Linked DNA regions of Homo sapiens. The protein of the gene in region 1 interacts with the protein of each later gene in a biochemical or structural test. Each region holds a gene or a part of one and is shown in the gene's direction. Other genes may lie near its edges.

What was found.
Region 2: the proteins of RAP1A (region 1) and TNFRSF10C form a complex in vitro, tested with the Homo sapiens proteins (one study listed by BioGRID).
Region 3: of the proteins of RAP1A (region 1) and RAPGEF4, one has a biochemical effect on the other in vitro, tested with the Homo sapiens proteins (one study listed by BioGRID).
Region 4: of the proteins of RAP1A (region 1) and RAP1GAP, one has a biochemical effect on the other in vitro, tested with the Homo sapiens proteins (one study listed by BioGRID).

Annotation. Positions count from the first base shown.
Region 1 is NC_000001.11:111,615,124-111,622,788, forward strand, and holds the start of RAP1A (ras-related protein Rap-1A precursor), read left to right. Parts: upstream 1-4,665; 5' UTR 4,666-4,811; exon of another isoform or gene 4,812-5,275; intron 5,276-7,665. UniProt on the Homo sapiens protein: Counteracts the mitogenic function of Ras, at least partly because it can interact with Ras GAPs and RAF in a competitive manner. Together with ITGB1BP1, regulates KRIT1 localization to microtubules and membranes.
Region 2 is NC_000008.11:23,105,892-23,112,920, forward strand, and holds part of TNFRSF10C (tumor necrosis factor receptor superfamily member 10C precursor), read left to right. Parts: intron 1-5,828; coding exon 5,829-5,934; intron 5,935-7,029. UniProt on the Homo sapiens protein: Receptor for the cytotoxic ligand TRAIL. Lacks a cytoplasmic death domain and hence is not capable of inducing apoptosis. May protect cells against TRAIL mediated apoptosis by competing with TRAIL-R1 and R2 for binding to the ligand.
Region 3 is NC_000002.12:172,731,195-172,738,864, forward strand, and holds the start of RAPGEF4 (rap guanine nucleotide exchange factor 4), read left to right. Parts: upstream 1-4,650; 5' UTR 4,651-4,789; coding exon 4,790-4,854; exon of another isoform or gene 4,855-5,196; coding exon of another isoform or gene 5,197-5,231; intron 5,232-7,670.
Region 4 is NC_000001.11:21,596,358-21,603,386, reverse strand, and holds part of RAP1GAP (rap1 GTPase-activating protein 1), read left to right. Parts: intron 1-473; coding exon 474-583; intron 584-1,547; coding exon of another isoform or gene 1,548-1,589; coding exon 1,590-1,703; intron 1,704-3,769; coding exon 3,770-3,893; intron 3,894-4,884; coding exon 4,885-4,987; intron 4,988-5,291; exon of another isoform or gene 5,292-5,322; coding exon 5,323-5,426; intron 5,427-5,658; coding exon 5,659-5,667; coding exon of another isoform or gene 5,668-5,701; intron 5,702-6,122; coding exon of another isoform or gene 6,123-6,413; 3' UTR 6,414-7,029. UniProt on the Homo sapiens protein: GTPase activator for the nuclear Ras-related regulatory protein RAP-1A (KREV-1), converting it to the putatively inactive GDP-bound state.

The DNA of each region.
Region 1 (7,665 bases):
TGATATACATGTAAGGGTATAGTGAAAGGTAAGGCTAGAAAAGTGGGATGGAGATACACAATTGGGCAAGTGCCAGATTGAGCAGTTTGTACTAAATTTGATGGGGAACTACTGATAGTTTTTAAAATAGGGTGGAGTCATGATCTGGACAATGCTTCAGGAAGATGGTTTTGGCAAGAACACAAGACGGACTGAAGGGAAGGCAACCAAGCAGGAGACCAAACAGGAGATCACAGCAAAAGTCTCGACCTAGGTTAACCAATACCTGACCTAGGGTCGTGGCAATAGAGCTAGAGAGGTGGGGGCAGCTGGAAGGGCCATTGTGTAGAAAGTATAGTATTTATACCTGTGCAGTCCAATATAGCAGCTCCTAATTAAGGCTCTTTAAATGCAACTTTAATTAAAATTAAATAGGATTTAAAATTCAGGCCAGGCGTGGTGGCTCACGCCTGTAATCCCAGCACTTTGGGAGGCTGAGGCAGGCAGATCATGAGGTCAGGAGATTGAGACCATCCTGGCCAACATGGTGAAACCCCGCCTCTACTAAAAATAAAAAAATTAGCTGGCCGTGGTGGCCTGTGCCTGTAGTCCCAGCTACTCGGGAGGCTGAAGCAGGAGAATCGCTTGAACCTGGGAGGTGGAGGTTGCAGTGAGCCAAGACCGTGCCACTGCACTCCAGCCTGGTGACAGAGTGAGACTCTGTCTCAAAAAAAAAAAAAAAAAAAAAATTTACTTCCTCAGTTGCATTAGCTGCATTTAAAGTGCTCAATAGCCATATGTAACTCCTGTTTTGGACTATGCAGATAAAGAACATTTCCATCACAGTGCAATGTTTATTGAACAGTGCAGCTCACTATGCTTTAGGGACTAATTAGGCATAGAATGAGGAAGATGGATTAAAGGAGGCTTCGGTTTGGCAGCTGAGTGACTGAGAAAGGTAGTGCCATGAACAGAAAAGAGGAAGTCAGGAAGAGGAGGAGCTGGATTTAGGAAGAAAGGTGTTTAGTTTCTGTCAAATACTAGGCCAGATAAAGTGTCTACCCAAATCATCAGATATCCCTGGTGAAAGGAAAGGGCAGGGAAAGCAAAGTGCCCATTGGGTTCTCCCAAAGCTTGTAAAGGAGCCCTGGGAGGATTTAATTGGTTTATCTCCTCCTGCACTCAGTTTCTCCTGTTTGTGCAGCTCCCTGAAGATTATGAGTGGGCAATCCAGTTCCTCAACCTCTCCAAACCAATGGTTCACATATACCGTGATGAGGACAGAAGCCCAAGGGCTTTGCTGTTTCCTTAGCTCCTTGGAGCCAGCTTGAACCTTTTTCTCACAGATGCTTTGTGCTTCCTGTCCCCTAACCGCCTTACTCACCCTTCCCCATGCTCAACTTTTGGAAAGTCCCCTTGGCCTCACTTGTTTGATTACTTCCTCTCAAACTACTTCTCACAGGGACCACAGCAAACCATTGACTCTACCACTTTTTACTTGCCCTGTCTTCCCTCCCAGCTTAAATTCCAAGGTCTATCACTATAATCACTCCCTTACATAATACTCCTACCCCTCTCATAGGCTTTCCCCAGCAAAACTCAGACCTGGTCAAATACAATTCTCCTCCAACCCCCAAGCAATGGAGTGTGGCTGGAGGAGAATCACACGGCCTTGCTGAGTGGTCTCACTTTAATGTATGATCATCAACTCAAGAGGGCCCTCAGCACTGTCCATGCTAAGCTTCTCTAGTCACTTTTCCACTCTTCAAGGAGATTATTTCTCACCTTCTTCTATCTCCTTTAATAGCCAACAGCTTTTCATTGCATAGAGAACAGATCTTACCTCATCAATCCCAGTGAGGCAGCCAGTACATATGGCACTCAGTGGAAACTGGGAAAAGGTCCATACGTGTGTGTGTGGGTATGCATGTGTGTGTATGCGCATGTGTGTGTGTTTGCGCATGTGTGTGTGTTATATGCAGGATGCTAACATGCACCACCTCTCCTGGTGGAGCAATCAGAAAAGTACCCCTTCCTCCAGGCTGATGTGACCCCACCAGGGCACGTGGCTTTGTGGGCAAAACAAGGGCTACATTTCAGCTCCTACCTGCCGCCTCTGCTCTACAGGGGCCTGAGCGTGCCACAACCAAATGTACTGTCTAATCTATCTGCTTCTGCACCCAGACACTCTACCTTCTCTCCAGAAACAGTGTGTGAATGCATTCCCTTACTCCTATCCTAGGCCAACCCTTTCACTTCTGTGCTAGATCCAATTGCTTCTCACCTATTTGAGGACACTCTTTCTCCAGTTGTCTCCTCTTGCCTTCTGTGTCATCAATTTTACCTCTCTTACAGAGTCTCGCTCTGTTGCCCAGGCTGGAGTGCAGTGGCGCGATCTCGGCTCACTGCAAGTTCCGCCTTCCAGGTTCATGCCATTCTCCTGCCTCAGCCTCCTGAGTAGCTGGGACTACAGGCGCCTGCCACCACGCCTGGCTAATTTTTTTTGTATTTTTAGTAGAGATGGGGTTTCACCGTGTTAGCCAGGATGGTCTCGATCTCCTGACCTCGTGATCCACCCGCCTTGGCCTCCCAAAGTGCTGGGATTACAGGTGTGAGCCACCACGCCTGGCCCAATTTTACCTCTCTAAAGAATCATTCCAGCTGGGCGCAGTGGCTCACACCTGTAATCCCAACACTTTGGGAGGCCGAGGCGGGTGGATCACCTGAGGTTGGGAATTCGAGACCAGCCTGGCCAACGTGGAGAAACCCCGTCTCTAATAAAAACACAAAATTAGCCAGGTGTGGTGGCACATGACTGTAATCCCAGCTGCTTTGGAGGCTGAGACAGGAGAATCGCTCGAACCAGGGAGTTGGAGGTTGCAGTGAGCGGAGATCACACCACTGCACTCCAGCCTAGCAACAGAGCAAGACTCCGCCTCAAAAAAAAAAAAATCATTCCAGCATACTAAAATGAGAAAAAGCATTTCTCATCTTAAAATATCCTCCCTTGATCTCAAGTACCTCTCTGGCTACTGCCCTTTTCTCCTTCAAAGCAAAGCCTCTCAAGAGCTGTTTAGAACACTTTCTCTTCCTCACCTCCCATCCTATTAACATACCCTAATCAGACTTTCTCCCCTATGACTCCACTGAAACTGTTTTCATCAAGGTCATCAGCAACTTCATCAGGCCACATCCAGTGTTCAAATTCTCAGTCCTTATCTTACTAATTTCAGCAGTATCTGATAAGACTCTTCACTCTCTCCTTCCTGAAACAATTATCTTGTTTTCCAACGCTTCACCTTCTCTTGGTGTTTCTCCTGCCCTGACTGGTAGCGCCTCCTTTTCTACTTAACCTTCAAGTGTTGGAGTGCCTCTTGGTCCTTTCCTTCAGCTATCTCCCCTCCCCATGTGATCCTAACTAGACTTAAGACTTAAAAAGTATCTATTTGCTAATGAATCCCAAATGTATCTCTCTAGACTCATATATCGATTGTTTATTCAATATCTCCATTTGGATGTATAACAGACACCTTAAACATAACATGTGTAAGAAAAGACTCTTGATTTCCCCATCCCCAAATCTGCTCCTCCATTTCATTAAGTGGCACCGCCATTAACTCAGTCATCAGGCCCGAACCTAAGAATCAACTCTTGATTTCTTTTTGTTCTTTCACACACTATGCCCCAAATCCAAATCCATTCCAATCAAAATGTATCTAAATAAAATAAAATAAAATAAAATAGCCTTCTTCTCATCCTGTCCGTGGCTGCCAGGCTAGTTAGTCCAAGCTACCTTACTGGTATCCCAAGGACATCTGTGCTTCTCCATTGTGTATTTTACACACATCAGCAAGACTAACTTTTAACAACATGAATCAGATGCGGTCATTCCTCGGCTCACCCTTCTCTCATGGTTTCCCGTTCCTGTTATAATGGCCCACAGGCTTCACTGGATCTGGCCAAGCCTAGCTGGTACTGCTCTCGGGCTGGCTGACGCTGCTCAGCCATGCCGGCCTTTCACTGTTTCTGCAACATGGCAGGCGTATCCCCACCTCTGGGTTTATGGCTGATTTTCTCTCAGCTTGGAAAGGCTATTCCTCCTCCAGGCCCGCGTGTTTGCAAGACTTATTCCTTCATCCCGTGTGTATGCGCTCAAAGGTCTTCTTTGAGAGGCAGTATCTCACCAGGTGTAAAGTCACCCTATCCTCTGCTTTATTTTTCTCCACACCACTTATCACTACCTGCAATTTTTGTCACTTGTTTGTTGTCTGTCTCCCCTCTCTCACTCCACCAGCATGCAAGCTGCAAGAGGGTCTTTGCCTGTCTATGACTTTAAACCTCTGCGCTTAGTTAGAACAGCGCCTGGAACCTAACAGGTGCTCAATTAGGGCTTGTCGAATGATTGAGTTCCCTCCAAATTCTCTTCTTGAATCTTTGGACCCTTCCTCATCTTTTTTCCGGTCTTACCCACCTCCCATCCCGCCCTACGCAAAGCTAAAACTCCCCGCCCCTTCCCGGTAGCTCCAGGCTTTCCCGGCTCCAGTGTGCGCGGCTCCTTTAAGCGGACTCCGGAACGCCGTGGGGAAGGCGGGGCCGAAGCCCAGCCATCGCCAACTTGGAGGGGCGGGGCAGAACCAGGGGGCGGGGCCTGCGTGGTGCGTGCGTGCGCGTTCTGGAGGAGGCGCCGCCGCCGCTCCCGAGGCCCCTGCCGCCGCCGCTCCCGCTGCTGTCGCCGCGCAGAGCCGGAGCAGGAGCCACGGCCGAGAGGAGGGAGGAGGAGGAGGAGGAGGTGGAGGAGGTGGAGGAGGTGGAGGAGGCGCCGGACCGGGGGGGTGAGTAAGGGGCGGGGAGCTCCAGACGGCCCCAGAGGGAGCGGGGGGCGCGGGTCGGCCGAGCCGAGGGTGAGGCGGCTCATGTCGCCGGTCAGTCGCCTGGCTCCCCCTTCCTCCTCCGCGTTCCATCGGTGTCGGGGCGGCGGCCCGGGGGCCTGGCCGGCGGGAGGGGCCGGAGATCTGGGAGGCCCGGCCGCCGCCAGGGCCAGAGCCAACCACGCCCGCGGACCGACCCGGTCGACTGTAGGCCTGCGGGAGACCGTCGGGAGGGGCCCCGGCCGGCTGTGGGAGAGAAAGAGGACATTGTGTCCCCCACCCTTCAGCTCCCCGAGGTGTCATAGCACAAGCCCATTTCCCTCGCCGTCTCCCCAGACACGGTGCCCTCGTACCTCACTGCCTGAGAGAAGTAGAAGGTTGGACATCGCTGCCTTCCTCCTCTTGCATGTCCCCTGTCTAGGGTCAGAGCTTCCTTCAAACCCAGCTCTCCCTTTTGGGCCCGCGGGGGCGGGGGGGAGGGACACACGGGGAACGGGGTTGGAGGGTTGGGTGAATTCTCTGTCCTCTGCTGTAGGAGTGCGGGTAGACTGGAGCATTGCTGTCTCCGGGCTCACTTCTGTCAGGGTTCAGGGTCTCCCTTTCCTTCCTTTATTCCCCCAGTTAATAGGGCTGACATCTACATCCCACTCCACCTTCCAGCCCCTTTCCCGCCTTCTTTACCCTCATGTCTTCCGTAGCTTACCATGTGTTCGCCTTTTCAGTGTTACTTTTCATGGGTCTCTGCTTCTTCCCTGAATTTTGTTAGGGAAGAGGTCACGGTGTGATTCTTGTTATCCTTCAAACTAGCGGCTTGGTAAGAGTATCTCTTGCCCCCTTAATCAGGAAGTTAAGGACGGTGTCTTCAGCCGAGTTGTGTAATTTACTGCTACGGGGAGAAGATGAGAGGAAGACATTTGTGCCTACAAAATGGGATCTCCTCTTAGGGCTGAGAACCAGAGTTTAGGGAACCTTTGACCTCTTGGAAAAAGAACTGCCATTGAGGAGTAATGCATTCTGTTTTGGGAGGGAAAATCATTTTGTTACTTCTTTGAAGGGAGGAGGTATAAGAAATGAAATAGAATAATAGAGCAGAAGGTCAATGAGCCACAGCCCTACAGGTAGCCAGCCACTCTTCTTAGGTGGCGGATGATGTTTTTGTTTTGATTACAGTAAGAATAAAGTATCAGCTCTTAGATTTAACTTGGGGCTCCTACCTTCAAAAGCATGAAGGGCCGTCTCAGAAGAGATGCTGCTGGAAACAGGATTTGGAAACTTTCTTTGGGTTTCCTGTCAGAATGTGTGGGGGTGGACATGCCTATGTGTAGTTTTTCTTTCCTTGTGATGTAATTTATTTCTGTGATACTTTGACATAATAAGCATTAAATTAGGCCCCAGACTTTCTGTCTTTATTATGCTTTCCTATAACATTGTTGTTTTGAAATCATATAGTTCGATATTCTTTTGTAGCGTGATATTTCAGTGAATCCTGTCTAGTTTTCTTGGTGTTTTAAATTATGGCCTACTTCAGATACGATTAGCTGTTAGGTATTGAGGATCATACGTGTTAAGTATTTGTTGAATGAATTGAATGATTACAAAGATGAGTCTAGTTATTAAATCTTCTGTCCTTTTGAGAGGTACCCTATATTAGGATACTGCAGTCCATTTCCAGTTTGTAAGATAGTAATTCTTAACCTTTTCTAGGCCACTGACACCTTTGAGAATATGATGAAATATATAAACTCTCTCCCCAGAATAAAGTTAATAGGCATTTATTCACAAAATTTTGCATTAGTTTTAGGGACCCTCTGAGGCCAACCATGAACTTATGTCTTAGAAGTGAACTGGATGGAATCCCTCAGTGTTACACAGTTCCATATTAAAACAGCTCAAAAGCCTTTGTTCACTTTTTGTATGGCTTCAAGAAGGACAGTATCTACACTTAATATACCCCAGAAGACAGGTATATTCATATACGTTGTTCCTGTAGTCCTTCTGAAAATGAATCCCAAGGAAATATTCCAAAAGAAAGAAAATGTTGTATATGCACATGTTCATTTAATTATTTTAATAGATGGGAAGAAAAGGAAACTACTTGCCCAACAGCAGAAAGATACACAATTTTGCAATCACTGAAAAAGGTTAGAAGTGAAGATTATTAATCTCCTAATTGATCTTCCAGCTTCCACTCTTGCCCCTCCACCCCAAGTTGATTTCCACACAGCAGCTACAATGATGCTCACAAACTTCAGAACAAGTCTCTCTTCTATTCAAAACCCTCCAGTGTTTTCCCATCTCATTCACAGTAGAATCCAAAGTTCTTACCATGGCCTACAAGCCTTACAGCTGCCCAGCTATTTCCCTAATCTCAAGCCCCTTTACTTTTCCTCTTGCTTACTGTACTCCAGCCACACTGGCCTCCTACATCCCAAAAAGGTCAAATACACTGAGGTGTCTGCACTTAATGTCCTCTCTGCCTGTAACCTTTTTCCCCAAGGCAGTATATATCCCTCACTTCTTCAGGTCTCTGCACCAGTCTCAGGTCTTCCCTTACTACCCTTCCCTGCCACTGTTTCTATCCTCTCACCCTACCTTATACTCTTAAGACTAGGTTATACTGATTTTGACAGCCACAGTTGTTGACAAACATTCCATGGTAATGTCGCTTGTATACTTGCATTGGACATTATTGTTTAACATTTAAAAAATAATGTCAGTCATAAAAAGATAACTTTCAGATTGTTAAGTTGAATTTTTCAATAGCTCACATTTAAATTTTGGATGTTAGCTTACCTCTCTTCAACATTTAACTACAGGA
Region 2 (7,029 bases), on another chromosome or scaffold:
GTGGTAAAATGAGATTCAGGGCTAGAGTTCTCTGAGCAGCTGCTTCTCTGATCTCTGTCCTGCCCTTGGCCTCTGGGAGCTCTTATGGTTCCTCAGCAGAGTTCACAGGGCTCTTGGAGCCTGTCCTTCGGCCTTGAGCTGAGGCCACAACTGCGCGCACTTCATAGGCTTGAGGGGAAAGTGATTCATCCAGGAAGTAAACAGTGAGCCCTTTACTCTGAGAACACCTGTGCCTGGAGTCCGCCGGAGTTTGGGAGGACAAATGAACCCCATGTGAATCCTGTTCCCTGGAGCCCGCAGTGTGGTGGGAGAGGTGACCCAGGGATTATATAACTAATAGGAGGTAGCATGAAGGAGGCCTGAGATCTCACTACCCTTGCCTCCCCCTCCTCCAGAGAGGCTGTGCTGGAGAGAGGCCATGCTGTTGCAGGGCCATAGGATGTGGTACTGTTGGCCTGGAAGATGTGGTTTGATTACAGTCACCATTGAGGGTCAGGGAGGGGAGCGAAGCTCTCCTTTAGATGCCCCCCCACCCGATTTTTTTTTTTTTTTTTTTAGCTGGGCCTGAGAATTTGATTCACCTAAGAGAGGTCCACAGGAGACAAGCACACACATTTATTTAATTCAAGTTTTACCTGGCATGGAAGAACCTGTGAGAGTCAGTTACTTATTTACTGAATTAGACCAAGTAACTCATGAAGAAGCAAGTAACTATGTGAGGAGCTAAAAAGATGAGAGTGGATCCATTCTAACATGGTCTGCACAGTACCCTCTTGGCCTCGACTTCTCATCCTTAAAAATAAGGAAATTGTCAGCTGGGTGCGGTGGCTCACGCCTGTAATCCCAGCACTTCGGGAGGTCAAGGCAGGTGGATCACGAGGTCAGGAGATCGAGACCATCCTGGCTAACACAGTGAAACCCCGTCTCTACTGAAAATACAAAACAATTAGCGGAGTGTGGTGGCGGGTGCCTGTAGTCCCAGCTACTGGAGAGGCTGAGGCAGGAGAATGGTGAGAACCTGGGAAGCAGAGCTTTCAGAAAAAAAAAAAAAGGAGATTGTCCTATGTTTCCCTGGGGACTTTCATCTCCTGCTTTTAGGAAACACAAAAGAGGTCAAAGGATCTTCTTGCACCTGTTGTTTTTCAATAGCCTTTAATTCATAATAGTCAATTGACCAGGGTGGGCAGGGTGCGATGGCTCACACCTGTAGTCCTGCCAAGACAGGCAGATCACTTGAGCCCAGGAGTTCAAGACCAGCCAGGGCAACATAGCAAAACCCGGTCACAACAACAACAACAAAAAACCAAACAAACAGAAAAACAGAAAAACACAGAAAATTATGTCGTGTGAAGGAATCCACACAGAATGCTTACCATCTGATTCCATTTCTCATTAAAATTCGACCAATCTATTCTGACAAAAAGCAGAATTATTGCTGGGGACATAGGAGCAAAGCGGAAGAGAGGATTACATTGAAGAATGAAGAAATTCTGGGGTGTGGTGGACATGTCATTTTCTTATCGTGGTGGTAGTTCCACAATGTATACACACGTCTCAATCTACCAAACTACATGCTTCAAAAATGTACACTTTGTTTCATGCCCATTATACCTCAATGAATCCATTTTTAAAAAACCTTCAATAGAATGTAAACACTTGAGTGTATACTGTATTCCCTATAGCACTTGCACATAGATCATGGAAATAGGTATGCATAAAAAGTCAGTTTATCCAATTAAAATGGAATTCTAAAAGGTAATTAACATTAAAATGTGCAGGGGGAAAAGGAGTAAAAAAATTAGACTAGACAATCATAGCTTAAATGGTAAACTTACAGGTCTATTTCAACTATATCAATTATTGCACTCCCTGTAAATCCACTGAGCACTACAGTTCAATGGTAGAAATGTTTGGAAGGGCTGAGAAAGCAAGACTCAACTATATCTTGTCTATATGAGATGGGCCTTAAAAGGAAGACACAGATGTTGTCTGTTGAAAGTAAATAGATGGAAAAAGATACACCATGCAGAGTGTAAGGCCAAGAAAACTGCCATGGCTATCTCAGTATCAGATGAAGTTGATTTTGTTAGCGGTGGATGAGATCCGAGTTACCCTACGTTGAAGGCGGCGAATCCGTATGCGTCCACAGCACCTTCAGCTCTTCGCCTCCTGAGAAGAAAGAACTGGTTTGAGGGGCATAAGGCAGAAGCAGAGATGGAGGCAAGTTTCAGAGCAGGAGTGAAAGTTTATTAAAAAGCTTTAGAACAGGAAGGAAAGGAAGGAACAGGAAGGAAAGGAAGGAACAGAAAGAAAAGAAGGAAAGTACACTTGGAAGATGGCCAAGCAGGTGACTTGAGAAACAGTACGCAGCCGGACCGCCTGAGTTGGGGTTTTATAGGTTGGCCTACTTCCAGGATCTTGCCTTACTTCTCCCCACTCCTGAAATCTTATTGGGAAGCTGCTGATCAGTTTCAAGTGTTTTCTATGTATTAGGAAACTGCTTTTTTCTGGCATCGGCTGTAACCAGTTATTACTTTAGAGACACAGTTATCAACTACCTGATGGTCGCCCAACACTGCTGGTGTCAGAAGCGGGGACCCCTCTCCTGTCCTGCTCATACCTAACTAGCTGCCTACTGTGACAATTTTAGGACATTGAATATTATGGGAGATGAAAAGGGACCTTTGTAGTTAAAAGGGTTAATTCTTCAAGGAGTATAATAACAACAAATTGTATATGCCTAGTAATACATCTTCAAAACACATGACACAAAAATAGAATTAAAAAGAGATTAACTCAGCTGTTTCTCTGCACTTGCTAGCATGATTAGATGAAAATGCCAGTAAAGTGGCAAGCGATCTGCACACTATCAACCACCTTGATTTAACTGACATTTAAAGAGCAGGAGTGGAACATTCACTGAACACTCATTCCTTTCTATGCTCATGATACTTTCACCAAGATAGACCAGGTTCTGGGCTATAAAACACACAATATGATCTCTAAACTTAATGAAACTAAACTGGAAATCAGTAACAATATCCACAGAGAATTCTAAAATTTTGATATTGAACAACACACTTCTAAAAATCTGTGGTTCAGACAGGAAATCAAAAGGGAAGGTAAGATATTTCAAAGTAAGTAATAATGACAATATAACACATCAAAAGTGGTGCGAAATAGCTAACAGTGCTCAGGGTGAAATATACAGCTTTCAATGTTTGTATTAAAAAACTGGGGGTTAGGGAGATGGGGAGTTACTGCTGAAGGGTATGTAGTTCCTTTCTGGAGTGATAAAAATATTCTAAAATTGATTATAGTGATGATTGCATAGCTATGAGTATATTAAAAACTGCTGAAGTGTGGACTTTAAATGGGTGAATTATATGAATAATCATAATTATTAATTATGTGAATTGTGTCTCACTAAAGCTGTCAAAAAAAGAAAAAACGTGAAAATTATGGGCCGGGCACGGTGGCTCACATCTGTAATTCCAGCACTTTGGGAGGCCGAGGAGGGTGGATCACGAGGTCAGAAAATCGAGACCATCCTGGCTAACACGGTGAAACCCTGTCTCTACTAAAAATACAAAAAATTAGCCAGGCGTGGTGGCGGGCACCTGTAGTCCCAGTTACTTGGGAGGCTGAGGCAGGAGAATAGCATGAACCTGGGAGGTGGAGCTTGCAGTGAGCCGAGATTGTGCCACTGCACTCCGGCCTGGGAGACAGCGAGACTCCATCTCAAAAAAAAAAAAGAAAAAGAAAAAGAAAATTATGGCCTGAGGAGCTACATTAATCAATCATAAAATATAAGTGTAAATTTAAACCAAACAAAGTAACAGGAAGGAGCATAAATCAAAGAATACAAACCACAGAAAGAACTGAGAAAACCAACTGTGTGCGGTGGCTTACGCCTGTAATCCCAGTACTTTGGGAGGCCCAGGCAGGCAGATCACTTGAGCTCAGGAGTTAAACCACTCTGGGCAACATGGCGAAACCCCAGCTCTACAAAATATGTGAAAATTAGATGGGCGTTGTGGCACACACCTGTCTTTGGGGACTGAGGTGGCAGGACCACTTGAGCCTGGGAGGCAGAGGAGGCAAAGGTTGTAGTGAACCGAGATTACACCACTGCACTCTGCGCTCCAACATGGAGGACAGAGGGAGACCCTGTCTCCAAAAAAAAAAAAAAAAAAAAAAAAAAGACAAAATGAAAAGTTGGTCTTCTGAAAGGATTTTAAAAAACACTAATAAACCCCTCATTAAATGAGAGGGAGTAAGAGTGTGAGAGCAGAGAAAGGAGACGCAGACATCGCCTGAACCTAGAGGGACTCCAACCCGGGAAAGAATGATTTGGGAAAAGTGGGTTAGCTTCACTGTCACCAACTGCTAGTCAGGCTTTGATGTGGAAGAAAGCTACATTTTGTCTTGTTTAGATCCAGGCAGTTGAACTGAGCCCAACATAAGCAGCTTTCATTGTAACCATTTTGGTTTTGCTTAAATTAATTTCCTACTTTAAAACACTCCCAACTTAAAGAAAAGTTACAAAAACTATACAATAAAAACATTTGAAAAAATGGCTGTTGGCATGATGAAAGCTATTATTGAATTCTTTAGTGTGTACTTTCTACAAACAAGGAAATTAACATCAACACATTACCACTATCTATCCGCACTCTATTCCGATTTCTCCAGTTGTCTTCTAGTTGTCATTTATAACATAGAGATCATGGCCAGAATCCCTGAATTGCTGTTTCATCTTTTTTGTCACTCTTTGATATTTAGTGGGAGCAGCTTGACAAGGTCCTTTGTAAAGCAGTAATTAATTACTTAATGTTTGATGCTATATCCTGACTTTCTGTAAGGTTATATATATTATAACCTTCATTTGTAAAGCTGAGTATGTTTAAGTGTGTGTCTGTGTGTATTTGTGTGTGTGTGAGTGAGAGACAGAATTCACCTATTGGTCAATTAAACACTTGGTGAAACTAAATATATTAAATGCTATTTCTGCATGAAGGGCTCATATGTGTGTGGTTTTTTAAAATTCTTATAAAATCTTTTCTTTCCAACCATGGTGGCATGTGCCTCTTATCCACATTTCTTGGGAGACTGAAGCAGGAGGATCACTTCAGGCCAGGAGTTCAAGCCTATAGTAAGATATGATCACACCTGTGAATAGCCACTGCATTCCAGCCTGGGCAACATAGCAAGACTCTGTATCAAAAAAACAAAATAGCTCTTCTTGCTCCCATTATCTGGGGTAAATTTATGTTATAATATGAGAAAAGGATACATAAGTGTTTTTCTTTTTCTTTTCATTTTTTCTTTTTTTTTTTTATTTGAGATGGAGTCTCGCACTGTCACCACATTGGAGTGCAATGGCGCGATCTTGGCTCACTGCAACCTCTGCCTCTCAGGTTCAAGCTATTCTCCTGCCTCAGCCTCCTGAGTAGCTGGGATTACAGGTGTGTGCCACCACACCCAGCTAATTTTTGTATTTTTAGTAGAGACAGGGTTTCACCGTGTTGGCCAGGATGGTCTCGATCTCTTGACCTTGTGATCCACCTGCCTCAGACTTCCACATTGCTGGGATTACAAGCTTGAGCCATCGCGCTTGCCTGTATTTTTTTTTTTTTTTATAGAAAATAGCTGGCCCTAACAGGCCAAGGGACAAACACAGGTATGAAAGAATGAAAGTTTGGAGCTGGAAAAAATGTCCAAGCTCTGATGGGTTTTGTCACTTGGGGTGAAGGGAATGTGAGATGGAGCCTGGGAGGGGTGAGGTCTGGAAGTCACTCACACCCATCACTCCTTTGTCCCCACAGGTCCTAGCTTACTCTGCCACCACTGCCCGGCAGGAGGAAGTTCCCCAGCAGACAGTGGCCCCACAGCAACAGAGGCACAGCTTCAAGGGGGAGGAGTGTCCAGCAGGTGCACTCTTATTTTTAAAAATCAGTTTATTTTTAATTGACAGATAAACATTGTATGTATTTATGATGTACACCATGATGTTTTGAAATATGTACGCATTGTGGAATGGCTAAATCAAGCTAATTCACATACTTAATCATGTATTCGTGGTAAGAACACTTAAAAATCTGCTCAGCAATTTTCAGCTGTATGGATACAGAGCCCTGGGATAAGCCCTCTTTGCCCTTTTTATCTGTGGGTTCTGTAGCCTTCCTTATCTATGGGTTCTGTATCCATGGTTGCAACAAACCACAGATCAAAAATATGCGGAAGAAATAAAAATGATAATACATCAATAAAAGCAGATAAAAAGCAATGCAGTATAGCACTTATTTACATAGCATGTCTATTGCATTAGGTATTACAAGTAATCTAGAGATGATTTAAAGCATATGTGCGTGGGTTTTATGCAATACTATCCCAATTTATATCAGGGACTTGAGTATATGCAGAGTTTGTTCCATGGAATATATTCCCTGTGGATAGAAGGCAGGACTGTACAACACATTGTTTTAATAACTGTAGTCGCCATGTCACACAATACATCTCTTGAATTTATTCTCCCTGTCTAACTGAAATTTTGTATCCTTTGACTAACATCTCCCCATCCCACCATCCAACTCAAGCCCTGGTAATCACCATTCTGCTCTCCACCTCTATGAGACCAACTTTTTCTGATTCCACATATGTGAGATCATGAGGTGTTTGCCTTTCTGTGCCTGGCTTATTTCACTTAGCATAGTATCCTCCAGCTTCATCCATGCTGACACAAATGACAGAACTCCCTTCTTTTTAAAGGCTGAATAGTATTCCATTGTATCTATGTGTCACATTTTCTTTAACTTTTCATCCATCCATGGACACGTAGGTTGATTCCATGTCTTGACCATTGTAAATAATGCTCCAATGCATATGGGAGGGAAGATATCTCTTCAATATACTGACGTCATTTCCTTTGGATGTATACCCAATAGTGGGATTGCTAGATCATATAGTTGTTCTATTTTTTGTTTTTTGAGGAACCTCCATACTGTTTTCCATAATGGCTGTACTAAT
Region 3 (7,670 bases), on another chromosome or scaffold:
AGAAAAAATGAAGGCACCCACAAGATAAAGAGCAGGTTTGACATTAGCCAGGTTTGGAAAAGACAATGCCATCTTACAACTGTCCCAGTAAAGTAAGAACTTTCTTGCCCCTTCTTTTCTCTCTTCCCTTCCCTACTCTGATTCTGGAAGGGTCAAAACCAGCAGCTTTCATGGTGGTCTGGGATGAGGAAGGAAAGGAGAAGCTGACCACGTCTTCTCTCCTAAAGGCTGAGACCTGCCTGTGACCAGCTGTAGGTTGGGGAGGAGGGCAGAGTTCTTTTCTTTGAAATGAAGATTGAAATATGTAGTGATATATTGGTTTGGGCATTCTAATAGAAAGAATCTGGTACTTTCTATTACCTATAAGTGACCAAACAAGCTATATCCAGTGGCAGGGGTAGAATTGCCTTCACTGAGCAAGTTTAAAAGGACAGTGAGATAAAACATTAAAATTGCTTTTATGATTTCACCGAAGGAATACTGCGTCTTCATTGAATTGGTTATATCACCAGCAGGAGTGATAGATGTGTTTTTATAACCTACCTTCCAATGAGGTACCTAAAACATGGTGAATCAGATTTTTCCCCATATACGGATATGAGTGAATGCCCAATCTATGATAGAATTTCCTGGAGAATTTCTATGGGTTTCTCAGGAGACCCATCCCTCATATCCTTTATAGCCAAAACTTGCAATTTATAGATGTCGAAGCCCTTTAGCATAAGTGATCTCGACAGCTTATCACCACCAGGTCCCTGTGAAATGCAGAGAGCACCTAGTATTATTTGCACTATATGGAGAATAATAGCTAAGAGTTATTGAACACTCACTATGTGCTTGGCACTTATGCTAAATATCTTACAAATACCAAATTCATGTATAATACTATTAATTTCTCCACTCTACAGATGATGAAACGGAGTCTTAGGCTAAGTAGTTAATTTAAGGCCAAACATTTAGTAGAAGATATGGCTGCAATTTGAACTTGGCTGCCTGCCTTCAAATTCCTAACTTTGAACCTCTGCTCAGATGAACAAAATGGAAATCAGACATTTTAGCAACTCATTCGAGGATCTACATAGCATTAACAGATATTGGTCTTGTCTCATCCTTGTCTCATGGAGATCTTCAGTAGAGATCTTAGTTCTCTAGTAGAGAAAGAATTCACTAAACTATAGGAAGGAGATTAAACAGATAATACCTTTTCCAAGTGAAAAAACAAGTCTCAAAAGATAGTGTAAGTAAATTATAACTGTACACTAGAATATTTGGTGGCCAGGAAAAAATGTTTAAGGATTTTTTAAGGAAAGTAAAGCATTTTTCCATTCCAATAGAAAAAGTAGCCTATAAACTATTAATGCTTTCAAGTCTGTTTGAATACATGTATCTATACACATACATATATGCACACATATACATACACATAGCTAGTTATATGTATGTGTTTGTGGGTACATGTATGATCATATCACTTCTAATTTTTAATTTTTTTTTAATTTTTGTAGAGATGGGGGGGGTCTCACTATGTTGCCCTGGCTGGTCTTGAACTCCTGGCCTCAAGCAATCCTCCTGCCTTGTCCTCCGAAATTGTTGGGACTACAGATGTGAGCCACTGTGCTTGGCCTTGATTGTATCTTTTCATAATAGAAAAGTTTAGAATTAAATGCACTAAAATATTAACAGTATTACCTCTATGTTATGGAATTATGGGTAATTTTTACTTTTTCTCCTATATTTTTCTCTGTTTCCCCCCAAAAGATCAATCATATTATTTTTCCTCTCCATATAGGTTTATTAATATTTTATTTACTTAACATTTTTATTGAGATAATTTGCATACTGTAAAATTCACTCATTTTAACTATACCATTTGATGATTGTTATTAAATTTATAGAGTTGTGTATCCATCACCACAGTTCAATTTTAGATCATTTCTAGAAGATTTCTCAGGCCCATCTGCAGTCATCCCTTATTCCCACCTCCCAGCCTTAGGCAATCCCTAATCTATTTTCCATCTCTATAGATTCGCTTTTTCTGGAAGTTTCACATAAATAGGATCATACAACATATGCTCTTTTGGGACTGACATATATTGTGTTCTTTTAAAGAGAGGGAAATGAATAAATATTCTTTGGTTCTTTGCCTTTCCCATCCAATCCAAGCAAAAGCCTGTTTTCTTCCTCTTAATACTATAATAACTAATTATCAACAGAGTTTCCTTTACTCCTGTAGTTCTTGACCAGCAATCAAATCCCTTTCAGATCACAAGATAATCTATAGGACAGTAAAGCTATTCCTGATGTTTTAAGGATCTCTGTTTTTTAATTCCTCACACATTTCTCTATTTTTACATTAAAAAACTGATTTATAACTATTTTGTTCTTACCCTCTGGACAGTCATTGTAGACATGCCCTATACTCCCATTCTATTGGCAGAAACAGGGACACCATCACTGATGTGGAAGGGTTTGGAATCAGACAGACCCAAATTCCACTCCGGGGCCCCATCTCCTGTAGCTGGGTTATGGACCCTTCCTGAGTTCAGTGTCTTAGTGAGTATCTTGGAGTTACTTGTACCTACCTCCAGGGCTGGATGAAGACATGAGCATGCTCTGGACAAGCTAGTGATTGTTGGTTCTCCTTCGAAAGGATGTTCTTTAAATAAGTCTTCAACTTCTCTTTAGAGAAGAGGCAGGGCCCCCACACAGCAAAACAAAGGCCTTGCAGTTCATCAGAGCTACACTCCTTAAAATGCACTGTGGACTCCTCGAGGGTCTCACTCTCACTCCCAGCAGCTCATCAGTGTCTTCCTTCCAATCCAATTAACACTCTCCCTGAAAGTACTGATACATATCATTTTCAATATTTCACTACATTTTCAAGGATATTTATTGCTGTTTGTGGAGTAGTGTCTTTCTGGCTCTGCCTCATAGAGTGTTCTGAAGATTAAATGGGATCACACATGTAAGGAGTACTGCACAGGGTCTAACACTCAGTGGATGTTCAATAAATGGCGACTATTATTAGTATCATAACCAAAGCTATGGCAACTCTGAGCCTCTGTGTGATGACAGGTGATGTGCAGCTCCTTTCTCCTCTAGCTCCTTACCTGGAAACCTTCTTTGCAGAAAGGCATTTTCAGAAAGCTTTTGGTGACCTTGAAACATTCTCAGGTGCTCTCTGATGTCTTTATAAATGAAACTTAATATATATAGGAGATACAGTTCCTCCTTCATACCTGTATAGTAAAAAAGCCACAACATAAATACCTTTGGTTAATCTTTCTATAGTATATTATTTTAAATATTAGCATAAACATGATAGAAATTAACAGAATGAAGGTTAACTGGGGGAAAAGCCCTGAGCAGGGAGGGAGGAGTTGCTGTGGGAACACTGTGGCAGGTCTGAAACTAGATCCTGGCTATCCAGCAGAGGGAAATGGCACATATTTGGAGGCTTTTATATCATGGTAATAATTGTTTTATTAGGATCAAAGCATCCCAGAAAGCACTTGCTCTTTCCTTCTCTCCAGTCCCCCTGACTCTCCCCTGAGCAGGGTTGGATAGGAGGTTTGGTGGGGGGAGGAGGCAGGGAACAGTAGAAGAAAGCAATGCTATGTCCCTTTCCCCCATTGTCTGGCCCCAAATGTAGTGCCATAAATATCAAAACAGTGCTTGGTAATAGTCCAAAACATTTAACTTGTCCGCAAATTCCTAAACAACCATTGGCGTGTAATTTGGTTCTTGGCAGAGTGTAACTGAATAACTTGTAGACATGACATTTGTGTGAACATCTACAAGAGACAGGCCGTTATCACCACCCATTCAACACTCCAGCCAGAGGAAGAACAGCAAGGGGGCCAGCCATACAAGTTCACCTGCGCGTCCGGGGTCTCGGTTCTGCTGTGGCCCGGCTACTCCCCATTCTCAACTGTGTTTTCTTCACCATGCAGGTGATGGAAGCCCAGGCAGGCCCAGGGTTCAAGGCCAGTGACTTCAGCCTGTCACCCCCTCAGACCACATCGGGCCCACCGGCCTCCTCCCTCCCTGCCCCTCAGCCCTGCCCGCACTGCCCCCCATTGCGCCCAGCCCTTCCTCACCCCGCAGGAGAAGCTGGCCTCTCATTCCTCACTGAGAGACTCGACGGGCGTCCCCACGCCAAGCCTTCCTCGCCCTCCCCTCCAGCCTTTTCTGAAGGGGAGACAGCAAAGGTGAGCAAGCAACCGCCGGCAAGTTTCGACAGCTGCTGAGGAAGACTCATGGGTTTCTAAGGAAACAGAGAGGCAGCAGCCATTTTAGTAGCATTTGCTGTATGAAAAATATATAGACACTGGCAGCCCTCTCCCCACTCTGCCTTGGCGCCTGCCCTCCCGCCCCGCCTCAGAGGCCCCGGGGTGAGGGTGGGGCCCCAGTCTCCGAGGGACGCAGCGGACACCTGTCGCAGGTGGCCGGCCACCGGGGTCGCCACCCCCAGTGTCCCCCAGCAGCGGGACCGCGGGGTCCCCACCCCGGGGCGGAATCCCCACCCACGGGCGCCGCAGTGCAGCGGCGGGCGGGCGGGCGACTCGGCCCTCCCCGCACCCGCGTCCCGCCCCCCGGGTCCCCTCCCTCTCCCCACCGCCCCAGGCCGCGGGAGCCCGCGGGGAGGGCGGGCCTGTCGCAGCCGCGCTGGTCGCCAGGCGTCCGGGAGGAGCGGGGTCCGCGCGGCGGACGAGGCGGGGGCGGAGGCGCAGGCAGAGCGAGCGCGGGAGGTCGCCGCAGCCAGGGACACCGCGCGCCGCCGCTCAACATGGTCGCTGCGCACGCTGCCCATTCTTCCTCCTCTGCCGAGTGGATCGCCTGCCTGGATAAAAGGTAGCTCGCCGGGGGCCGCAGCCGGGGGCCGAGCTCTGCGGTGCTGCCCGGGCCCTGAGACCGCCGCAGCTCCGCACCTGGGCGCAGCGCGGCCGGGCTGCGGGTGGCCGGGGTCCCCGAGCGGGGGAAGGGGTTGAGGTCCTCGTCCGGGAGACAGGAGGACAAGGATCCCCGCCTCTCGTGGGGTGCCAGCGGCATGAGATTATTACACGTGGTGGAGAAAATGCAGCGCAGTAAGGGGAGAGAGCACCCACCTCTCCAACCCCCTGCCCTGCCGCGACTCCAGGCTCCGCTCCTGGGTGGGGGTTTATTTTCTCTTGGCATCACGGGACAGAAGAATCGATGCATACCCTTTCCGGCTATTCAGACCTTGCGGGGTATGAAGTTTTAAAGAGGGGTGGGGGCACCGGCAGGTGCAGAGTAACATTCTTTTTTTGTTCTTGAAAGCAAAGTGTGAGGGACCCGGTGGAGCTGTCGAATCCCTTGCTGAAATTCACAGCTCTCTGCCCCCGCAGTCGCTCGCTCAAGGTCTGTGTTAGAGAAGGTCATTTGGGAGGCTGCTTTCGTCTTAATACCTGCTTCTCGGGAAAAGATCTTTACGCTAAAAATAATTAAAACCATAAAGCATGTAACTCCCGACGACAGCTCTCTCTAAGGAGGATGTGTGTGTTAACAGTGGATTGCAGTTGTTTCCAGGCTGTGACAGCATAATTTTCTGTTTGTCCAGATTGCAGGTTTAAACGTTACACAGTATGTTAGCAATTATAGCTTATTACCCTGATTAAAAGGTGATGCATCTGAACTTTTAAGAACTGAGCAAGAAATCTTGCAGAGTGAACTGCCTCTGAATTTCGGAGTTTGATGCAGAAGGGCAATGATGCACGTCTTGCAGCTATCTGCATGACATCTCTATTTGCATTTGTGTGAAATATTTTGTGCTCTGCCATATTGAAAAATTTTCAATTAACAGATTCGTAACCAGATCAAACTTGAAAATCTTAAGTGTGACGTGCTTTGCATACTCTATTATAGGCCTTTGTTGAAAAATATTAAGTAATTTGAGAAAAGCTAAATGTAGCTCATTTGAAAAGCTTAATATATCTGAGAAATAATCTTGACTTTCAATTACCACTCAGTAGCAAGATTTTTTGGCAGGTAGTGCCCTATTTATGTCTAAAATGATATGTACTAATATTAAAAGAGTTGCATGCAATAAATAGTAAGAGAATTAAAGTAATAGTTAAATCACACAGGATTATGTAGAAGAACTAAGAGTATTTAAAGTATAGAGGTTGTTAATGTGATAAGTATCTACATTTAATAGTTCAGGAAAAAGGAATTATATGGGATTCAGGATCTTGCACTTAACCTATAAATAGTAGTGCTTCCTTATGAGCAAAATTTTTAGATAATAACATATTTCTATGTGTAGAAATGCATGGCATGGCATTTTTTGAACAGTCGGTAATTCACTGGAAACCCGTTAGTCAATAAGAAGTACTTATGGCAAAATCATAGAGCAATACTAACACAAGTGGGACATATTCGACTCTCTCTTTTCATAATGTGTATCTGCCTAAATGATTTTGCTTGAAATGGATTTTTTAGAGCATGGTGCCCCCATTTAATGCCACCATTCATAATGGGAAAAAAATCTAGGAAAAAAAAAAAAACCCTTCACAGATACTGAGCCTAGCATCAGAAGAGTCAGATGAGTGGATAGATCAATAAGTTAAGGGTTTTAGGCACAGAGCTGTTACCAGTTCTGATATTGGACATGTCACTTTTACTTCCTTGAGTGTCTGAAAAATGAGGATAGGACTATCAGGGATAAGTGGACAAATGGAAGGAGAAAAAAAAGGTGAAATAGTTTGAAAACTGTGAGTGCCATGTAGGCTTTTTGTTTTGTGGTATTAAAAGAACTTTGCATGTTCTGCAGTGTTCATGCCAGAATTAATTCCAATGAGGAACAGTTTAGGGCAGCAATCTCATTGTATGAAGGCCATGGGGGGACTTGTTTTGAAGTTGTGTTTTTACTTAGATTGTTTATTTATTTATTTTTTTTAGGAAAGGAGAAAGGTTGAGAGTGTTTATGGAAGTTGGCTAGGGAAGCCCCCTGAAACACCTGTTTAGTGGAGACACTGCCCTCAATGTTTCTGAGAAATGCTGTCTTGATCCTCTTTTCCAGGCACTGTGAAATGCTATCTTGATCCTCTTTTAAATGCTATCTTGATCTTCTTTTCCAGGCACTGTGCTGGGCACTGGGGATGCAACAAAATATGAGAGTTGCTTGTAGGCTTAGAGGGTAGGGGAGATTGGTGGTGGGACGGCTCTATAAACAGCTAACCACAATGCAATAGTAAGTGCTTTAATGGAGATGTATAAAGTGCTTTGGGAATGCAGATGAGAGAGTTATCGAGATACTTCCATAGGTGTCCTGCCTAGAACTCAGAGGCTGAGAACAATTTTACCAGGCACAGAATAGGGAGGGCATGCCAGGGAGTGGTGTGGCATATGAATATGCTAATTTCTTCCCAACCACAAATTCCTCTTGTGACCAAATCTAGAGTATAGGAATGTATGCTCTATTTTTATAAAATCTTTTTTATTATGGACATTTTCAACCCTGCACAAAAGAGAAAGTACAATGAACCCATGTGGGTTCACTTGGGAATATGATGCTGGGACCTTTCAACTGGGAAAAGGACGTAACTGGGAAACACAGTTCAAATATATGCCTCATTCAAGTGACAACTGTTGTGGATGGTGAAAAAAAGAGAAACCCTGGGACTGGAAATAAAAAGAGAGTTAAAAGA
Region 4 (7,029 bases), about 90 Mb from region 1:
TGTGGGAAGCTGGGGGAGTCTTCCAGCTGCTGGGCCAGAACCTCCCCCAGCCAATTTGGAGGTTCCGGGGAGGGGCCCTAGCTGGCACGGGGTGGGACTTGGGTTGCTACACTGCCCTCTGACCACTGCCCTTAGGCTGCAGATCCCACAGAGCCCTGGGGGGCGGGGAGCGGTAGCCATTCTGAGGACTCGGCCTCCTCCCACCCTAGCCCCCTCAGGATGCTGTCCTAATCCTGGGCCAGTATTGACGTGCAGTCCTGCCGTGTGAGCTCGGGAGAGCCCCTTGCCCTCCTGGGGACTGTTTCCCTTTCGTAAACTGGGAGGCTGTCTCTGGGAATGGATATCTTCTCTCGTTCTTTCTTGCTCATCAACTCTGCTTCAGGGCCTGGGGCAGCAGGATCCCCAGAGGGGATGTGGGGGGGGCACTGGGGCTCCCAGGTAAGGTGGCACTGAGTTGGGGCCTCTCCCCACAGTCACTGATTGTCCCTGGGAAGAGCCCCACGAGGAAGAAGTCGGGCCCGTTCGGCTCCCGCCGCAGCAGCGCCATTGGCATCGAGAACATACAGGAGGTGCAGGAGAAGAGGTGGGTGAGTGGGGGACAGTGCCCCATTCCCCTGCATCCCCATCCCTGAGCCCCATTCGGTGGCAAAGCAAGGCAGGCAGAAGGGAGTGCCCGCCCCTCTGCCTCTCCATCCCCACTAGTGACAGCTGTGTGGTCAAGTCCCTGCTGCGTGTCGGGCACCAGGGCCAGCACGTCACCTAACGTGCCACATGCAGATCAAGAAGCGGTAGGTCAGAGGAGTCAAGGGGCTTGCCCAGATCACACAGCCAGTGATGGGCAGAGCTAGGATCTGAGCCCTGATCTGTCTAGGGCCAGCATCCGTGCTCTTCCCACGGCCCCAGCGCATGTGGGAGGGCCTAGTGCTGGTTTTCAGGGTGGCCACAGATGGGCCTGGGGGGTCCATGAGTGTGGGCAGCATGAGGGCAGTGAGCCCAGGCCAGCAGCAGGGCTGCCCCCGGACATCAGAGGCTAGCTCCCGGCTGCCTCCCCGATATTAACCATGTGTGACCTTGGGCGAGTCACTGACCTCCTCTGAGCCTTACTGTCCCAACCTGGAAAAGGGACAAGAACACAACCCATGGCATGGGGCTGCTGTGGGGACTCAGGGCACTGCGTGTGAGGCCAGGGCCAGGTCCCCTGAGAGGGCTCCAGGACGGGAGTGGGCATTGTCCTTGCTGCTGCCAGAGCTCCGCATGCTGTGAGTCCTGGGTTCAGGTCTTGGCACTGCCACGTCCTAGCTGTGCGTCCCTGGGCAGGTTCCTTATCCATAATGGGACAGCTATACCTGCTCCTGTGGAGAGGACCTGGGAGGAGTCCCATCCTGTCCCATATAGCCCCATCAGTGCCAACCCCATCACTGGCCAGGCTAGCCAGGGAGCCCACAAGACTGCTCCAGGGCTGGCCCTGAGTATAGGGGCGTGGGTATGAGGCAGGAGGCACCGTGACTCCCCTCACCGCCTGGGCCTCACGCTACGCCTGATGCCAGGCCTGGTGCTGAATCCCCCCGCTGCCCCCGTGTGCCCCGCAGGGAGAGCCCTCCGGCTGGTCAGAAGACCCCAGACAGCGGGCACGTCTCACAGGAGCCCAAGTCGGAGAACTCATCCACTCAGAGCTCCCCAGAGATGCCCACGACCAAGAACAGGTTGGGGCTCAGGGCACGTGGGGCTTGGGGGCTTGGGAGTGGTGAACCGTCCTTCCCCTCCCCTGCCTGGGCCCGGGACAGCACAGGAGCCTTGACTGTGCCACAGCAGGGTGTCAGGGGGACCTGGGCATTCTCTGGGGCCCTCCTTTGACATATACCCAGCGAGCACTTTGTGCACGCCCAGCCCCGCGCCCGGCTCTGGAGCACAGAGGTGCCCTGCGCATAGGTCCCCGCCTCACGGCCGCAGGTCCATCAGAACGCGGCCTCATAGGCTGTTGCCGGATCATGGTGATAGGAGGAACCCGAAGCAGGGTTGGGGGGATGAAGAGGGACTGGGGGCAGAGGTGTTTTAGATGGGTCCTCGGGGAGACACCTCCATGGGGTGACATTTGAATTGGGAACTGAACCAGCCCTGCTAGGACTGGCATGGCAGAGGAGCTCGGCCAGTGCAGAGGCCTGGGGCACACTCCAGGGACAGAAAGAAGGGTGGCTGGGAGTGGTGACGTATGCCTGGAGTCCACCTACCTGGGAGGCTGAAGCAGGAGGATGATTTTAGCCCAGGAGTTGGAGGCTGCAGTGAGCTATGATCATGCCTGTGAATAGCCACTGCACTCTAGCCTGGACATCATAGCAAGACTCCATTGCTTAAAAAAAAAAAAAAGAGTATCTGAGGGGCTGGGCCTGGACAGACATTGTGACATTGTGCTGGGTGGTGGCGGGAAGGAGGTTGGAGAGGTGGGCAGACACTGGCTTATAGCTTAGCAGGCTGTACAAGAGCTTTGACTTTTTTTTTTTTTTTGAGACAGAGTCTTGCTCTGTCTCCCAGGCTGGAGTGCAGTGGCACAATCTCGGCTCACTGCAAGCTCCACCTCCCGGGTTCACGCCATTCTCCTGCCTCAGCCCCCCAAGTAGCTGGGACTACAGGTGCCCGCCACCATGCCCATCTAATTTTTGTATTTTTAGTAGATACGGGGTTTCACCGTGTTAGCCAGGATGGTCTTGATCTCCCGATCTCGTGATCCGCCCGCCTCAGCCTCCCAAAGTGCTGGGATTACAGGCGTGAGCCACTGCGCCCAGCCTAAGAGCTTTGACTTTTATCCTAAGTGTGACAGGGAACCTTGGGAGGATTTTAATTACGAGGGCGATGCTTTAAGAAGCTGACTTCGGTTGCTGTACAAAGAGGCTGGAGTGGGGTGGGATGGAAGCAGAGAGGCCAGTGAGGAAACTGTCCCTGCATTTGGTGTCCGTTGGCTGAGCTGCCTCTGTGTTGGGCTCTGTGGGAATCAAGAGGACTCAGCCCAGGCTAAAGAGCCGGGTAGGTGAACAGAGAGGCAGGAAAGGGTGGCAGGGACCAGGGAGACGCAGTATGCAGGAGCCAGAGTGGGGAGGGTCATTCTCACCTTGGGAGGAGGAATCAGGGAAGGACTCCTGGAGCGAGAGCCCTAGGCTGATTTTTTAAAGGCACATTTGCTTTTCGGGATTTGAGAGGACTGAGACTCCAGGCAGGAGGCATAGAGGCCCTGAGCATGAAAACCTTGTGGGATTAAGAGAGTAGACTGTGGAGTTGCCTGGACCTCAACCCCTGCCCTCCCACCTGTGCTGAGTGACCCTGGGCTGTGTGCCTGTCCCCTCTGTGCCTGGTGTCATCTCATCTGGAAGATGGGTATAATAATCATAGCGATAAGATAATTCAGGTAAAGGCACGTAGAGCAGTGCCCGGTGCAGAGTGAACGTGCACCCGATGATGTTAGTGTCGCTAACCGCTGCTGTTTTTGAACACCACGCCAAGGATATTGTGCTTTACCTGGGGAAATGGGAGGCCAGGAGAGGGTTTTGAGCAGGGGAGGGACGTGGTCAGATTTATGGATTAGGAAGGACAATGCGGGTAGGAGGAGGCTGCAGGGGGAGTCTGGGGGGCTCAGAGGCCCAAGGATCTGTAAGGGGTCCTCAAAGGTGCTTGGCTGCTACCAGCTGGGCCTCCCGGGTTGGGGAGGGCAAGGGAGTGAGGGCCTGGCCCAGGAGGGGCTCGGGGTGGACACCGGCTAATGGGGCACTGTCTGTGGCAGAGCGGAGACCGCAGCGCAGAGAGCAGAGGCGCTCAAGGACTTCTCCCGCTCCTCGTCCAGTGCCAGCAGCTTCGCCAGCGTGGTGGAGGAGACGGAGGGTGTGGACGGAGAGGACACAGGCCTGGTGAGAGGCTCAGGGGGGTCAGGGGCCCCACAGGAGCTTGGAAGGGGGCTCTTTGGTCCCTGGAGATGCCCTGAGTAGAACCACGAGCCTGGGCGTGGCTGAGATGTGATCAGGGGACCCGGCCCAAAGGAGCAGTGCAGACGAACCCTCCCCTGCTCAGAAGCCTTCCACGGCTCCCCAGCACTGTCCACAGGAAGCTCAGTCTCTGGAGCTCTTGGAGATCTGGTCACTCCCTTCCTCTCTAGTCTCCTCTCTTACCACTTCAGACATTCTGTACTCCGTTGCAGTCCCCCAAGCCTCCCAGGCTCACTGCACCCCTGGCCCTTTGCGCATGTGCCATCTCTTCTGTCTGGAACACTCTTCCTGCCGCCTCCTCCTTTCTTTGCCAGGCTGGCTCTGACTCATCCTTTTTGACTGAGTCTCACACACCTCCTCCTGAAAGCCTTCCCTGATTTCCTAATCTCGGGGTAGGTTAGGAAGCCCCTTTACGTTCTCACAGTCCTCGGGCTTTGCCCGGAACACCCTTTATCATTCTTCATTCTGCAAACCATCAGTGGGCCCCTGTTCCTTGCCAAGCGCTGCCCCAGATACAACAGATACAGCTGGGAACAGTGCAGACCCAGGCCCTGCCTGCTGGGGCACAGAGTCTAGAATTGCAATGGTCTCTTCACAGCCTGCCTTGCCTCCCAGATATCAGGCTCCTGAGGGCAGGGCCCATGCCTGATTTATGTCAGTGGCAAGCCCTGGAGAACATCAGTGAATGTTTGTTGAGTGAGTGAGTGGCAGTGGGTGGCGTGTGCCTGGGTCTGTGCCTGCCCTGACTCTGCCCTCCTGTGGTCTCCCTGGGGCAGACATGGCTAGGCCCGTCCTCCTCGCAGAGGGTACGGGTGGGGGGTTGTGGAATGCAGTGAGGGAGAGGGGCTGGGAGGGAGCCCTAGCCAGTGCCAAGGGCATAGGCTAACCTCCCTCCCTCTTTCCACCCCCTCCCCAGGAGAGCGTGTCATCCTCAGGAACACCCCACAAGCGGGACTCCTTCATCTATAGCACGTGGCTGGAGGACAGTGTCAGCACCACTAGTGGGGGCAGCTCCCCAGGTACCAGGACAAGGCAGCTTCCCCACAAAGCAGGGCTACCTTGGGGTAGGAGGGGGACAGGGCTGGGCACCAGTTCCCATGCCCCATGCAGTGGATGTGATGTGACTGCCCCTGACTTGGAGGACAGCGGGCAGGTCATTGTCCAGCCTAGGGTGGCTGGGTGGATTGGAGGGCTGGTTTCTTCCGGAAGGGTCTCGGAGGATAATGGGGGATGGCAAGGAAGAAAGTTAAGGGTGGGGTTGGAGCGCACTGGTGCCGACCGCCCACCTATGCCCCCGTCTCCCTGGTGCCTCCCCGCGGCCAGTGAGGTGGCTCCCTCCTGCCCCCCTCCCCAGGCCCCTCTCGATCACCCCACCCAGACGCCGGCAAGTTGGGGGACCCTGCGTGTCCCGAGATCAAGATCCAGCTGGAAGCATCTGAGCAGCACATGCCCCAGCTGGTACGTGCAGCCTCCTGGGGCTGGTGCTGAGGGAGCCCCACCCGGGAGGGGATGAGCTGGCGGGGAGGCTGGGAGCTGAGGCTCGACCAAGAGGTCCCCCTAGGCCCCGCTAGGCCAGGAGGGGTGGGGCTTGCCCGGCCTGGACACAGCCAGTGACTTTGTGCACCTGTGTCTCCCGCCCCGTTGCTTCTCCCGTCTTGCCACCTGCCTCACCACCACTGTCTGTCTGCAGGGCTGTTAGCCGGGCCACCCCCTCTGAAGGTGAAACTGAGCAGGTTAGACCCAGCCCCTCAGCTTGTGTTTGGTGGGAGAGGGTGGGGGTGTGTAGAGGGCTGAGCTGATTCCTCCCTGTTCTTCTGTCACCTCTCTGGGGTGGGAGCTATGTATCTGGGTTTGAGCCCCCTGGTCCTCAGTTGCTGGGTGACTTGGGCAGGCCACGGCCCTTCCCCGTGACCTCTGCCCTTGCATTGTTGGAGGATTTGATGGGAGTGTGAAAGGGACTTGGCAGTTGCCAGGTGGGGAGAAGTTTCAGGGGTTCCCAATGGGATGGAAAGACCTGGAGCCTGGAATTCCAAGGGTGGGCCCCTCCCAGGGTGGGGTTCTCTGAGGCAGGGACTTGGCAGAGTTGGGGCACACTGGTGCCAGCCACCCACCATGCCATGTTTCATGGTGTCTCCATCCCCCTTTGCCCTGCAGATGAGGCCACAGAAGCACAAGGGGAAGGTGCCGTGTCAAGCCCAGGCAGACGAGACCTCTGCCCTGAAGACCAACACCAGCCCGTGGGCTGCCCCCTGCCTCCCCACCCTCCCCATGGCCCACCCATCTGGGCTGTCTCTGCAGGGCAGAGCCGTCCAGACCTGGGATCAGGGAAGCTGCTGGCATCGTCCCCACCCCCAGCCTGGGGGTCTGGGCTGGGGCAGGGATTGCTCAGTGGAAGCAGGACTGGGGGTCTGGCTTGCCCCCTCCCTGGGCCTCCATCACCCCTGAGCATCCCTCTGGACTCAGAGGGAACAAGGTGGGAGAGAGAGTTTGAGACAGCTCCGTGTGGAGAGCTTAGCCCCTGGAGGCAGCACAAGGAGGATGTGATATGTGGGGGAGTGAGCACTGGGTTGGGAGCCGGGTCCTGGTTTCCAATTTGGGTTCTGCTGTGTGACTCTGGGCAAGTCACTCTCCCTCTCTGGGCATGTCTGCTACAAATGGACAAGATTATTTCAGAGGTCACTGAAGACTGTGATTACATGCACCTGCCTTAGAAGGTAGGATTTTCTTCCCAGGGACCTCCTATCACCCTACCCTGCTTCTTGAGGTCCCTGGAGCCCCAGGTGGGCTGAGGGGCAGGGAGCCGGCTGTGCCCAGTATGCCTCCTGGACCCTCCAGTTCTGCCACAGGTCTGCCGATGCCCTGTCCACTGCCTACACATGACAGACAAGTAACCCCCTCATGGGGGATGGGGACCTACCTGGCTCCTCAGCCAGCACCCAGCTTAACCCCTGCCATCCCATGCTGGGCCCTCCAGGCCAAGAGTCTCAGCTGGCCGAGAGTCCAGGCCTTGCCTCCCCCGACCGCCATGGAGGGGGCAGCCCGGCACAGCTGCTGGGAGCCC